4 separate regions of the Homo sapiens genome follow, and all the other regions are linked to region 4. The links come from fine-mapping of genetic effects on gene expression. A gene starts in region 4. Each other region holds a variant in brackets. All regions are shown on one strand. Distances are from middle to middle.

What was found. PIP is the estimated chance that this variant, and not a neighbour inherited with it, causes the effect. A credible set is the group of variants that fine-mapping cannot tell apart.
Region 1: its variant is the best candidate, but not a certain one, in a credible set for the expression of LINC01166 in unexposed skin (GTEx, PIP 0.60).
Region 2: its variant is the best candidate, but not a certain one, in a credible set for the expression of LINC01166 in monocytes after R848 (Quach 2016, PIP 0.75).
Region 3: its variant is the best candidate, but not a certain one, in a credible set for the expression of LINC01166 in sun-exposed skin (GTEx, PIP 0.54).

Annotation. Positions count from the first base shown.
Region 1 is chr10:132,921,207-132,923,887 of GRCh38, reverse strand. CFAP46 (cilia and flagella associated protein 46) reads left to right here. Exons shown (of 58, transcript NM_001200049.3): 12 at 1,180-1,408; 13 at 1,664-1,784. Among named protein-coding and RNA genes, the nearest start is that of CFAP46, 20 kb to the left of the region's middle. The variant C/T (reference allele first, on the strand shown) is at 1,228.
Region 2 is chr10:132,931,093-132,933,773 of GRCh38, reverse strand. All of the region lies in intron 8 of CFAP46 (cilia and flagella associated protein 46), which reads left to right. Among named protein-coding and RNA genes, the nearest start is that of CFAP46, 10 kb to the left of the region's middle. RefSeq lists an enhancer at 1,772-1,841. The variant C/T (reference allele first, on the strand shown) is at 1,230.
Region 3 is chr10:132,927,370-132,930,050 of GRCh38, reverse strand. CFAP46 (cilia and flagella associated protein 46) reads left to right here. Exons shown (of 58, transcript NM_001200049.3): 9 at 247-346. Among named protein-coding and RNA genes, the nearest start is that of CFAP46, 14 kb to the left of the region's middle. The variant C/G (reference allele first, on the strand shown) is at 1,399.
Region 4 is chr10:132,964,126-132,966,806 of GRCh38, reverse strand. LINC01166 (long intergenic non-protein coding RNA 1166) reads left to right here and starts at 1,518. Exons shown (of 2, transcript NR_120627.1): 1 at 1,518-1,621. LINC01168 (long intergenic non-protein coding RNA 1168) reads right to left here and starts at 1,273. Exons shown (of 3, transcript NR_046231.1): 1 at 900-1,273.

The sequences.
Region 1 (2,681 bases), 43 kb after region 4:
CGACTATACCTTTTGGAGGAATGGAAGATTTCTCTGGGGCTAAGAACATGCACCCTTAACTTAGCACAGTCTGTGTCAGGCCAGCATCACTCCAGCTCATTTCACACAGACACATACCCTAAAACATGGTGACCACACCCCTCACACCCCTGCTGGGCCTTCCTTCGACTTCCCACAGCACAGAATGAACCCTGGATCCCGGCTCAGCTGTGTCTAGAACTGCTTCTCAAGCCTGGGGCCATCAAACGCAGGCTCCTGTCACACACAGCCTGCTCGAGGCCGGGGGTCCGGGGCACCCCCACAAGGGCTGCGTGAGGCCAGGGGTTCCAGGGCACCCCCACATGGCTGCTCAAGGCCAGGGGTTCCAGGGCACCCCCACATGGCTGCTCAAGGCCAGGGGTTCCAGGGCACCCCCACATGGCTGCTCAAGGCCAGGGGGTCCAGGGCACCCCCACATGGCTGCTCAAGGCCAGGGGTTCCAGGGCACCCCCACATGGGCTGCTCGAGGCCAGGGGTTCCAGGGCACCCCCACATGGCTGCTCGAGGCCAGGGGTTCCAGGGCACCCCCACATGGCTGCTCGAGGCCAGGGGTTCCAGGGCACCCCCACATGGCTGCTCAAGGCCAGGGGTTCCAGGGCACCCCCACATGGCTGCTCGAGGCCAGGGCGTCCGGGGCACCCCCACATGGCTGCTTGAGGCCAGGGGTTCCGGGGTACCCCTACATGGCTGCTCAAGGCCAGGGGGTCCAGGGAACCCCCACACGGGCTGGTTGGGCTGCTCCGCACGGCCCTTCCTCTCCAGACCCTAGCCTCCTTCGCAGCCCTGCACCCCGACCCCTGCCGCCGTGGCCTGTGGGAACCACACCCCACACTTCAGGAAGTTGTCCCCAGGCAGAGAGCCGGGCAGTCTTGCACTAGCGCCCAGGTTTCCTTCCAGGGGCTGCCGTCGTGAGCTGCCGAGGCCTCTGCGGTCTGCAGGGGCTTCTCTCCTTGTCCCCATTTGTGAGTCCCCAGGGCCAGGTAGGGACATCACTGGAAGGATGGCAGAAAGCCAGGGGCACCGGGCACCAAGCCTGCCCTACACTCTGGGGCCACTGCAGGCCTTCCTCTGGAGGGTGTGACCCCAGCCTGACAGAGGCGCAGCGCCGCCAGGGCCCCTGATGCCACGCCACCCCCGCAGCCTCATGACGCTTCTCCGCTGTCAAGTGCACATGGAGATGGCGCAGAT[C/T]GAGGAGGACGAGGACCGGCTGGAGCCCGCCACGGAGCACCTCCGGAAAGCCGCGCGCCTGGACAGCCTGGGCCTCTACCGGGACAGGATCCAGATGGCCTCCACCCGGCTGCGTCTGTGCACCACGCTATACCAGGCCCCTGAGCGCGCAGAGGACAAGGCCATCATGGCCGTTGAGCAGGTGCCGCCCCGGGGAAGTGAGGGAGGCTGGGTGCTGCAGCCCCAGCATGGGGCCGGGGCGGGGCTCTGAGGGCACAGCAGGGCGGGAGCCGCCCAGGGCTGCCTGAAGCAAGGAGGCCTGGGACCGAGCTGTCACTGTGTCTATGAGCACGAGGACCACACAGGCCCCTGCCAAAGGCCAGGAGGCTCCAGAAGTTGGAGAAGGTGCTGTGGAAAGTCCAGCGGCCCCTTGCTCATCAGTCTCTGCTTTTCACAGGCAAAAAAAGCTACACCAAAGGACAGCGTCAGGAAGAAGCGGGCCCTCCTGGTGAATGCAGGCCTGGCCTTAGCCCCTGACGCGTTTCAGATTGTGCTGGACAGTGAGAATGAGGCCAAAGGTGAGCTCTGCACTGGGCTCTCCCAGCCCAGAACGGTCCACCTTGGAATGGCTCCCAGGCTGCCCCGGGGCCTCCCCAGTCCCCATGCTCCCTGCCACCGCCCCCTGGATGCACAAGGACCTTGCACCGGCAGTGTCCTTCGATCTCGGCCCGCCGGGTCTGGCAAAGCCCAGCGACGGTCTTCTGTGCACACGCCAGTCAAGTCGGGTGCCCTGTGTGCCGGGACAGACCCCACAGGCTCCGCTGCTTAGACTACGGGAACTTACTCCTCCCAGCCCCAGGCTGGAAGTCAAGGCGTGGGCAGGGCTGATTCCCCCTGAGTGCTCTTCCTTGGCTTGTGGACGCCATCTCCTCCCCGCATCCTCACAGGGCCATCCCCTCTGGGGGTCTGTGTCCTCGTTTCCTCCCTTTGGAAGGACACCAGTCAGATTGGACTAGGGTCCACCCTGATGACCTCATTTGACCCAAATTACCTCCAAAGAAGGTCATACCCTGAAGTCCTGGGGGCGAGGACTTCAACACACCCTGCTCTGGGGAATGGGGTTGAGCCACTGCCTGAGGCACAGGACGGGGCTCCCTGGATCACGGGGGTCAAAGCTGAAGCCATCACATCTGTCCCAGGGAGACCCTGAGCTGGCTTTGGGTAATGGGACACGGGGCCGTACGGCCCATGTGCGGGGACTGAGCCAGGGTTCGGCAGGTGTGTTGCATCCTCACTGCCCGAGCTTCTCTGGGCACTCGCCAGTGGCTCTGGGAACGCAGGCGGCCCCACTCTCTCCAGCCCAGTGCAGGGGCCAGGCTGGGCCTGGCTTGGGAGCCCTTCCCGCTGGTCCCCTGAGGGTCCTGCTGGGGGCTGCTGCCAGGCCTCCCTCCAGCTCAGTGCCCAGCAGCCGGCGG
Region 2 (2,681 bases), 33 kb after region 4:
GCTTCATCAGTGCTAGCGAGGGGCGCCAGACGCCAGCACGTTCGTGGTCTCATCAGGGAGGTGGCACCTGCCCAACATTGAGGTCTCCGCTGCTCAGCTGCAGGCTCCTCGAGGGAGGGGCCCCAGGACCGCAGGGTGGCTGCTGGGCCACAGCCTGGGCCGCAGGGGCACAGGGCCAGCCTGCTGGTGGGTCTGTTTTTGGGAGGGGTATGAGTGCATGTGTACATGGGGATGTGTGTGGATATATTGTTCTGGAAGGAGTTTACGTCTTCCATCAGACCCTCCAGGTTGTTCTAACTGAAGTCCGGCCAAGCGTGGCCGTGGCCCTGGCCGAGCATCCCCTTCTGTGGCCAGGCGCTCCGACGAGAGGTCTTGGGACCAGTGTAAATAGCCCTGTTCCGAGGTCTGTCCACAGGCGGCATTCTCAGGCACTTTTACGGATTCTCTCTTCCCGACCTGCCCAGCAGGCCTGTGCGCTGGAGCTCAGGTAGGACGGAGAGGCCAGTGTTGTGATGCCAGGCCTGCCAGGACCTGAGAGGGCCCAACAGCAGAGCAGGGGGAGGAGGAGGTGGGCAGGGACGAGGGGCGGAGAAGCGTCCGCACCCCACCCCAAAGCAGCCTCCTGCCCACAGCTACCCAGGGATGCAGGGAGGATGGTCACACCACACTGAGGGCCGAGTTGAGTCGCTGCCAGCAGCCGCCAATTGTGTTCCCGGTAAGACTGTGATTACTCCCCGGGAAACAGCAGAAGACATGTAGACCTGCTCCCCAAGGACATTTGGCAATGTCTGGAGACACTGTGGGCGGCTGCTCTTCATCTAGCGGGCAGCTGCAGGGACACAATGGACAGGCTCCTCCTGGAAGAGAGGCGTCCCGGAGGGAAACCCTGGCCTAATCTCCACCGGAGGAGCGTGATCCTGATCCCTGCAGCTCAACAGGAAGCCTTAGAGTGGAGAGCTGAGAGCACCCGCTGTGCTCTTTCTTGAAGTTGTCTGGAGCACTGTGGGTCCTTGCATGTGGATACAAATTTTAGCCTCAGCCTGTCAGTTTCTGCAAAGACCCTGATTGGTGACTGCAGGTGCGGTTGGCGGCACGCCTACGGGCTTGTCGCATGGTAGGAAGGCCCAGGCTCTGTGTGGGGAGCGTGGGGAAGCCCAGGCTCTGTGTGGGGAGGAGGAAGCTGCAGGATCTATGTGGGGAGGAAGAAGGCCCAGGCTCTGTATGGGGAG[C/T]GTGGGAAGACCCAGGCCCTGTGTCAGGAGTGTTGGGAAGGTTCAGCCTCTGTGTGAAGAGGTGGAAGGCCTAGGCTCTGTGTGAGGAGTGTGGGGAGGCCCAGGCTCTGTGTGGCGACAAGGAAGGCCCAGCCTCTGTGTGTGGAGGAGGAAGGCCCAGCCTCTGCGTGGGGAGGAGGAAAGCCCAGGCTCTATGTGGGGAATGTGGGGAGGCCCAGGCTCTGTGTGGAGAGGAGGGAGGCCCAGGCTCTGTGTGGAGAGGAGGGAGGCCCAGGCTCTGTGTGGGGAGGAGGAAGGCCCAGGCTCTGTGTGGGGAGTGTAGGGAGACCCAGGCTCTGTGTGAGAAGTGTGAGGAGGCCTAGGCTCTGTGTGAGAAGTGTGGGGAGGCCTAGCCTCTGTGTGGGGAAGGCCCAGGCTCTGTGTGGGGAGGAGGAAGGCCCAGGCTCTGTGTGGGGAGGATGAAGGTCCAGGCTCTGTGTGGGGAGCAGGAAGGCCCAGGCTTTGTGTGAGAAGTCTGGGGAGGCCCAGCCTCTGTGTGGGGAGTGTGGGGAGGCCCAGGCTCTGTGTGGCGACAAGGAAGGCCCAGCCTCTGTGTGTGGAGGAGGAAGGCCCAGCCTCTGCGTGGGGAGGAGGAAAGCCCAGGCTCTATGTGGGGAATGTGGGGAAGGCCCAGGCTCTGTGTGGGGAGTGTAAGGAGGCCCAGGCTCTGTGTGGGGAAGAGGAAGGCCCAGGCTCTGTGTGGGGAGGAGGAAGGTCCAGGCTCTGTGTGGCAAGGAGGAAGGCCCAGGCTCTGCGTGGGGAGTGTGGGGAGGCCCAGGCTCTGTGTGGAGAGGAGGGAGGCCCAGGCTCTGTGTGGGGAGGAAGAAGGCCCAGGCTCTGTGTGGGGAGTGTAGGGAGGCCCAGGCTCTGTGTGAAAAGTGTGGGGAGGCCTAGCCTCTGTATGGGGAAGGCCCAGGCTCTGTGTGGGGAGGAGGAAGGCCCAGGCTCTGTGTGAGAAGTATTGGGAGGCCTAGCCTCTGTGTGGGGAGGGTGGGGAGGCCCAGGCTCTGTGTAGAGAGGAGGAAGGCCCAGGCTCTGTGTGAGGAATGTGGGGAAGGCCCAGTCTCTGAGTGGAGAGTGTGGGGAGGCCCAGGCTCTTTTTGGGGAGGAGGAAGGCCCAGGCTCTGTGTGGGGAGGAGGAAAGCCCAGGCTCTGCGTGGGGAGTGTGGGGAAGGCCCAGGCTCTGCGTGAGGAGTGTGGGGAAGGCCCAGGCTCTGCGTGGGGAGTGTGGGGAAGGCCCAGGCTCTGCGTGGGGAGTGTGGGGAAGGCCCAGGCTCTGTGTGGGGAGTGTGGGGAAGGCCCAGGCTCTGTGTGGGGAGGAGGAAGGCCCAGGCTCTGTGTGGCGAGGAGGAAGGTCCAGGCTCTGCGTGGGGAGTGTGGGGAAGGCCCAGGCTCTGCGTGGGGAGTGTGGGG
Region 3 (2,681 bases), 37 kb after region 4:
GACGTGGCCCTGGGCAGCCTCCACAACTGTGCTGGCCCCGGGAGACTGCTGGGCTCCGGTGCTGTAGCTTGAAGCCCTGCTGGGGCCTCCCCACAGGGCTTCTGTTCTAATTAACTTAATTTTATTTATTTCTTATCCTACCTTTATTTCCTGCTTCTGCTTGAACGGGGGACATGGATTCTCGCCTGCAGCCATGTTTCCTGTGCCCCCTATTGAGCCGGTGCTGGCTGGTTTGTTTGTTTGCAGAATGCTTTTGCTTTTTGAATTGGCGCGTTTTTCCTTGACCTTGAAATGCATGGAGATCTCCTCTGCCTGCCTCTCAGACCTGAAGAAGATGGAAAGCAAAGTAAGTGGCTTCATGACACTGCTGCCTGGGGATGAGGCGCTGCTCACCGTGCAGTTGGACAAAAGGCAAAGAAAGGAAGAGCAGTTCACCAGGCCACGGCCCCCAGGGCTTCGGTCCGTGGTTGGCACATTGCCGTCTTTCCTACCTGTGTTTTGCACAGTTGCAGTTAGATGGTGTTTGCAATTTTACACCTGCCCGTTTCTCTTTACCTTTCTTGTGGCCACGGGTCCACAGCACCACAGTTGTTTCTAGAGTCCAATTTACGGACGGCGTAAAATTTCATGATGCTGATGATCCAGAACATCCTCCACCAGTCCCATTATTGGACGTGTAAATCACACCGGCAGTGCCTCGTTACCCGCAGTTCACTTTCTGCAGTTTGTTACCTGCAGACAGCTACAGTATGAAAATATTAAGCTATTCTGAGGGAGAGGCCACAGCCACATCACTTCTGTTACAGTATAGTGTTATGATTGTATCTTATTATTAGTTATTGTTATAAATATCTTATTGTGCCTAATTTAGAAATTGAAGTTTATCGTAGGGATTTCCGTCTAGAAAAATCACAGTATAATCGGGTTTCGGACTACTCCACGTTTCAGGCCTCCACTGGGTTGGGGGGTCTTGAAACGTATCCTCTCAGAGAAGGGGGGGCTACCGTATAATTTTTTGCTTATTACATAAAGGGCTGCAGTGAACATTTTGTGCCTAAAACATTTTTCTGCGTTTAGGATTTTTCCCTAAGATGAGTATATTTACATGAAATGACTAGGGAATTTTCACTTTTAATATTTTAAGAATACACGTTAGAGTATTGCCCTCCAGAAGAAGCTTCACACAACGACAAGTGTGTAAGACTGCATACATCAGGTTTGCCGATGCTTTCAGGAACTGTGACAGGCTCTTCCACAGAGCAGGGAAAATGTGATCAGTTTATCAGGGATGGTTTTGAGCAAACTGAGTGTCGCTTTACACACAGAGAGTGAAGAAGGGGGACCCTCGGATGCACAGCCACATGCTGGGGCCTCCCTGTGTGCTGTCTTCATTGAGCA[C/G]TTGCTGTGTGCTTTGCCCAGGTTACCTAAGAGTGAACGTAAACCAACCATCAGTGGCGCAGGAGACACGGCCATGGCTCAGCACGGGGGGAGCCGTCCAGTCACGCTGAGGGCTGTGCTGATCTGGAAATGGTTTCAGAATAGGAGATGCAGTTCACGTGGCCTTGACAGCCAGGCAGCCCTTGGAGGGACCGCCCACCAGGGTGCAGGTGGGAAGCGTGGTCAAGGCTGGAAACAGCAGCCCATGCCGCACGGAGGATGGGAGCAGCGTGGGAGGCTCCTGTGTTTGATGCCCTTTACCGGCTTCTGTGGGCCCCATTTCCATCTTCTGGGTTTTCACGGCACGGTGTCCCCAATTCAGAATGACTATGGAACGCCTGGGTCCGGCCCCACTTCCTCCTTCCCAGCAGCCCTTCCTTCAGCTCCCTGTGCCTCAGGGCTTGTCCCTGCAAAATGGCAGCAGTAACAGGACCCATCTCCAAGGGCTGCTGTGGAACTGAGAGCAATGTTTTGTGTATCCCAGGTTGAGGCTCTCGGGTGGGCCCCTGCTGACGTGGGGTCGCTGTTAGGGAGGCTCCTGTGGCCCAACTCTGCCCCCACCGCCCGTGGCCCCTGCACAGCATGTTCCTCTGCCCCGGCTTGAGGACACTGTCCTGGCCCTTTGCCCGGTTGGCCTCTGCCCATCCCTCAGGCCCCAGCCCTCCTGTTACCTCCTGACCACTGGTCGAAAGCGACCTTCTCTAGGTAAACATTCTACCAGGAGGCTCATTATCCCCGCCAGCCTACTGTTAGACATTCAGGATCTCACGAGATTTATTTTAAATTAAAAGCTCACTAATGTTAAGGATATGAATAGTTTTTAATTTTGAAGCCTTGGTGCATTTTTAAAGACTATCCACTGTAATACATTTCACAATTGCCTGAGTGAATGGTGGAAATGATTTAACCAGGCAGACACCTGGACTTGTGGGACCACATAAAGAGTTTTAAGATCCGTGAACGTGTGGGAAGCACGGAACGCTTTTTCTGACCTCTGTGAAGCCTGGCATGGCTTCCTTAGTGGCATGGAGGCTTGCAGCCGCTGGACAGGCCGGGGCACACAGCCTGGGGTGGTGGCCTCCTGCGCTCTCCATCCTGGCCGGCACCGAGGCCCAGACATGCAGGACTGCGGTGCAGCCATCCCGAGGTGCTGCGGGTACTTCCCGTGCTTGTGGACGTCTGCCGCCGAGGACCTGCTCCCCGGGACGGAGGCGTCTGCCGCCGAGGACCTGCTCCCCGGGACG
Region 4 (2,681 bases):
ATCAGGAGGCCTGGCACCGAAGCTCACACTTGTAATCCCAGCACTTTCAGAGGCCAAGGCAGGAGGATTGCTTGAGGCCAGGAGTTCAAGACCAGCTTGGGCAACACAGCAAGACCCCATCTCTCCAAAAAATATTTTCTTTAAGTAGCCAGGTGTGGTGTTGCATGCCTGTAGTCCCAGCTATTCAGGAGACTGAGGCAGGAGGATCACTTGAGCCCAGGAGTTTGAGGCTGCAGTGAGCTATGATTGCACCACTGCACTGCAGCCCAGGAGACAGAGTGAGATCCTGTCTTAAACAAACAAAAACACAAAACAGATCAACCAAGATAAAAGAAAAATAAAGAGGGAAAAGCCTAAATTGCCAATATCAGAAATGAAAGAGGAAATATAGAGATTCTACAGTCACTAAAAGGGAAATCAGGGAACATGATAAACCAGTTTATGCCAATACATTTGGCAATTACAATGAAATGGGGGAAAGTCCTTGAATAATACAATTTACCAAAACCACCTTAGAATAAAATGGAAAATCCGAACGTCAACCCAGACTGAGGGGCACTCTGCAAAGTCGCTGACAAACACTCACAAAAATGTCAAGGTCAAGAAATACAAAGAAAGGCTACAAGAACTGTTGAAGAAGGATGGAAATTAGGACTTTGAAAAGGTCATAGGCCCGCGGTCCTGGATTAGATCCAGGATGTAGTGGGAAAAAGCTAAAGGGATGTTTAGGCACAATTGATGAAATCTGAGTATGGACTCTGGATTAGATATTTCATTGGTGTGAACTTTCCTGATTTTGACAGCTATACTGTGGTAATGAAAAGAAGTGTCTTTGTCAGGAAGTACACGCTGAGGTATTTAGCAGTAAAATGGCATAATTTCTTCAACTCTCAACTCACCCTCCGTCGATTCAGGGAAATGCGCATATGCAGACACAGGCACATGCAAACACATGTAAACACATGCAAACACATATAAACACGCGTGAACGGCAGAACAGCAGGAAGGTAACGCCAGAGAGAATTGGGAACAGCAGGAAGGTAATGCGTGAGGAGAAGTGGGAATGGCAGGAAGGTAATGGCATGAGGAGAAGTAGGAACAGCATGAAGGTAACGCCAGTGAGAAGTGGGAACAGAGGGAAGGTAACGTCGTTGAGGAGAAGTAGGAATGGCGGGAAGGTAACGCTGGTGAGAAGTGGGAAAGGCGGGAAGGAAACACCATTGAGGAGAAGTGGGAACGGCAGGAAGGTAACGCCGTGAGGAGAAGTGGGAATGGCAGGAAGGTAACGCCAGTGAGGAGTGGGAACGGTGGGAAGGTGACACCGGTGAGAAGTGGGAACCGCAGGAAGGTAACGCCGTTGAGGAGAAGTGGGAACGGAGGGAAGGTAACGCCAGTGAGGAGTGGGAACGGTGGGAAGGTGACACCGGTGAGAAGTGGGAACCGCAGGAATGTAACGCCGTTGAGGAGAAGTGGGAACGGAGGGAAGGTAACGCCAGTGAGGAGTGGGAACGGTGGGAAGGTAACGCCAGTGAGGAGTGGGAACGGTGGGAAGGTGACACCGGTGAGAAGTGGGAACCGCAGGAATGTAACGCCGTTGAGGAGAAGTGGGAACGGAGGGAAGGTAACGCCAGTGAGGAGTGGGAACGGTGGGAAGGTGACACCGGTGAGAAGTGGGAACAGTTGGTGAATTCGCCTAAGGCTCTAATGGCAGTTCCTTGTCGTATTCTTGTGACTTTTACATATGTTTGACGTTGTATCAAAATGGTAAGTTGGGAAAAACCCTCAGAGCAGCTCATCCTCAGACCTGCTGAACAGTCTTCAAAGACGCCAAACGGTGGCAGCCGCGTCTTTGTGAGGCTCTTCTGGCGACGGCGCTGGCGCGGACCTGCCCCGGCAAAGTGTGCGTGTCGGGAGGCAGCACCCGCCCGCCAGGCCTGGCCACAGTGGGAGGAGGGAGGTGGCGCAGCAGCCGCTGGGCGTCCTGGGGGTGACCTGGGCTCACAGAGGGCAGGGCCTAGGGCCACGCCGATGAGCCTGTTAAAGTGCCTCACAGTGTCATTGCGACTCATAACCATTCTCACCGTTGCTTATTTTACGTGGCACTTGCTTGTGTCCACCCAAACTGCCTGACCACGAACCCAGAAACCATGAATATTTTGTCCCCGACCGTTGGCCGCGCCCTAGAACCAGGCCTGGCCCAGGCTGGGTGGGTGGGTGTGAGGGATAAGAAGAGAAATGGCAGGCAAGTCGGTTTTAACATACAGAACAGGTGGCCACGCGGGACAGACCCTAAAGCCAAGGTTCTTTCTGACCTTATCATGAGGCTGATCCTTGGAGCGCAGGGAGGCGGCCGCAGGGTGAACAGTGCCCTCTGTGTAGGCTCCGGAGCAGAATGGTCATCATGGACAGGCCGCCGGCTGCTGGGCTGTGACTGTTCTGAGGCTGAAATGGGCAAACAGCCTTGCCTCCTCTCCACCTGCAGCTGCAAGCCTGGACAGTCGAGGCACCCCGGGAACCTCCCCTACGCTCATGTCTTGCTCGTGCATTTCTGAGCTCCCCGGCAGTTCAGCCTCCCTTGTATTAAATCCTGACAGGAAGCTTGGATTAAGACCTCGGTAGTGCTAAAGCCGTTGCTCTCTGAACCCATGCTCATGGGGGATGAATCTTGTCTCCCCAAAAGA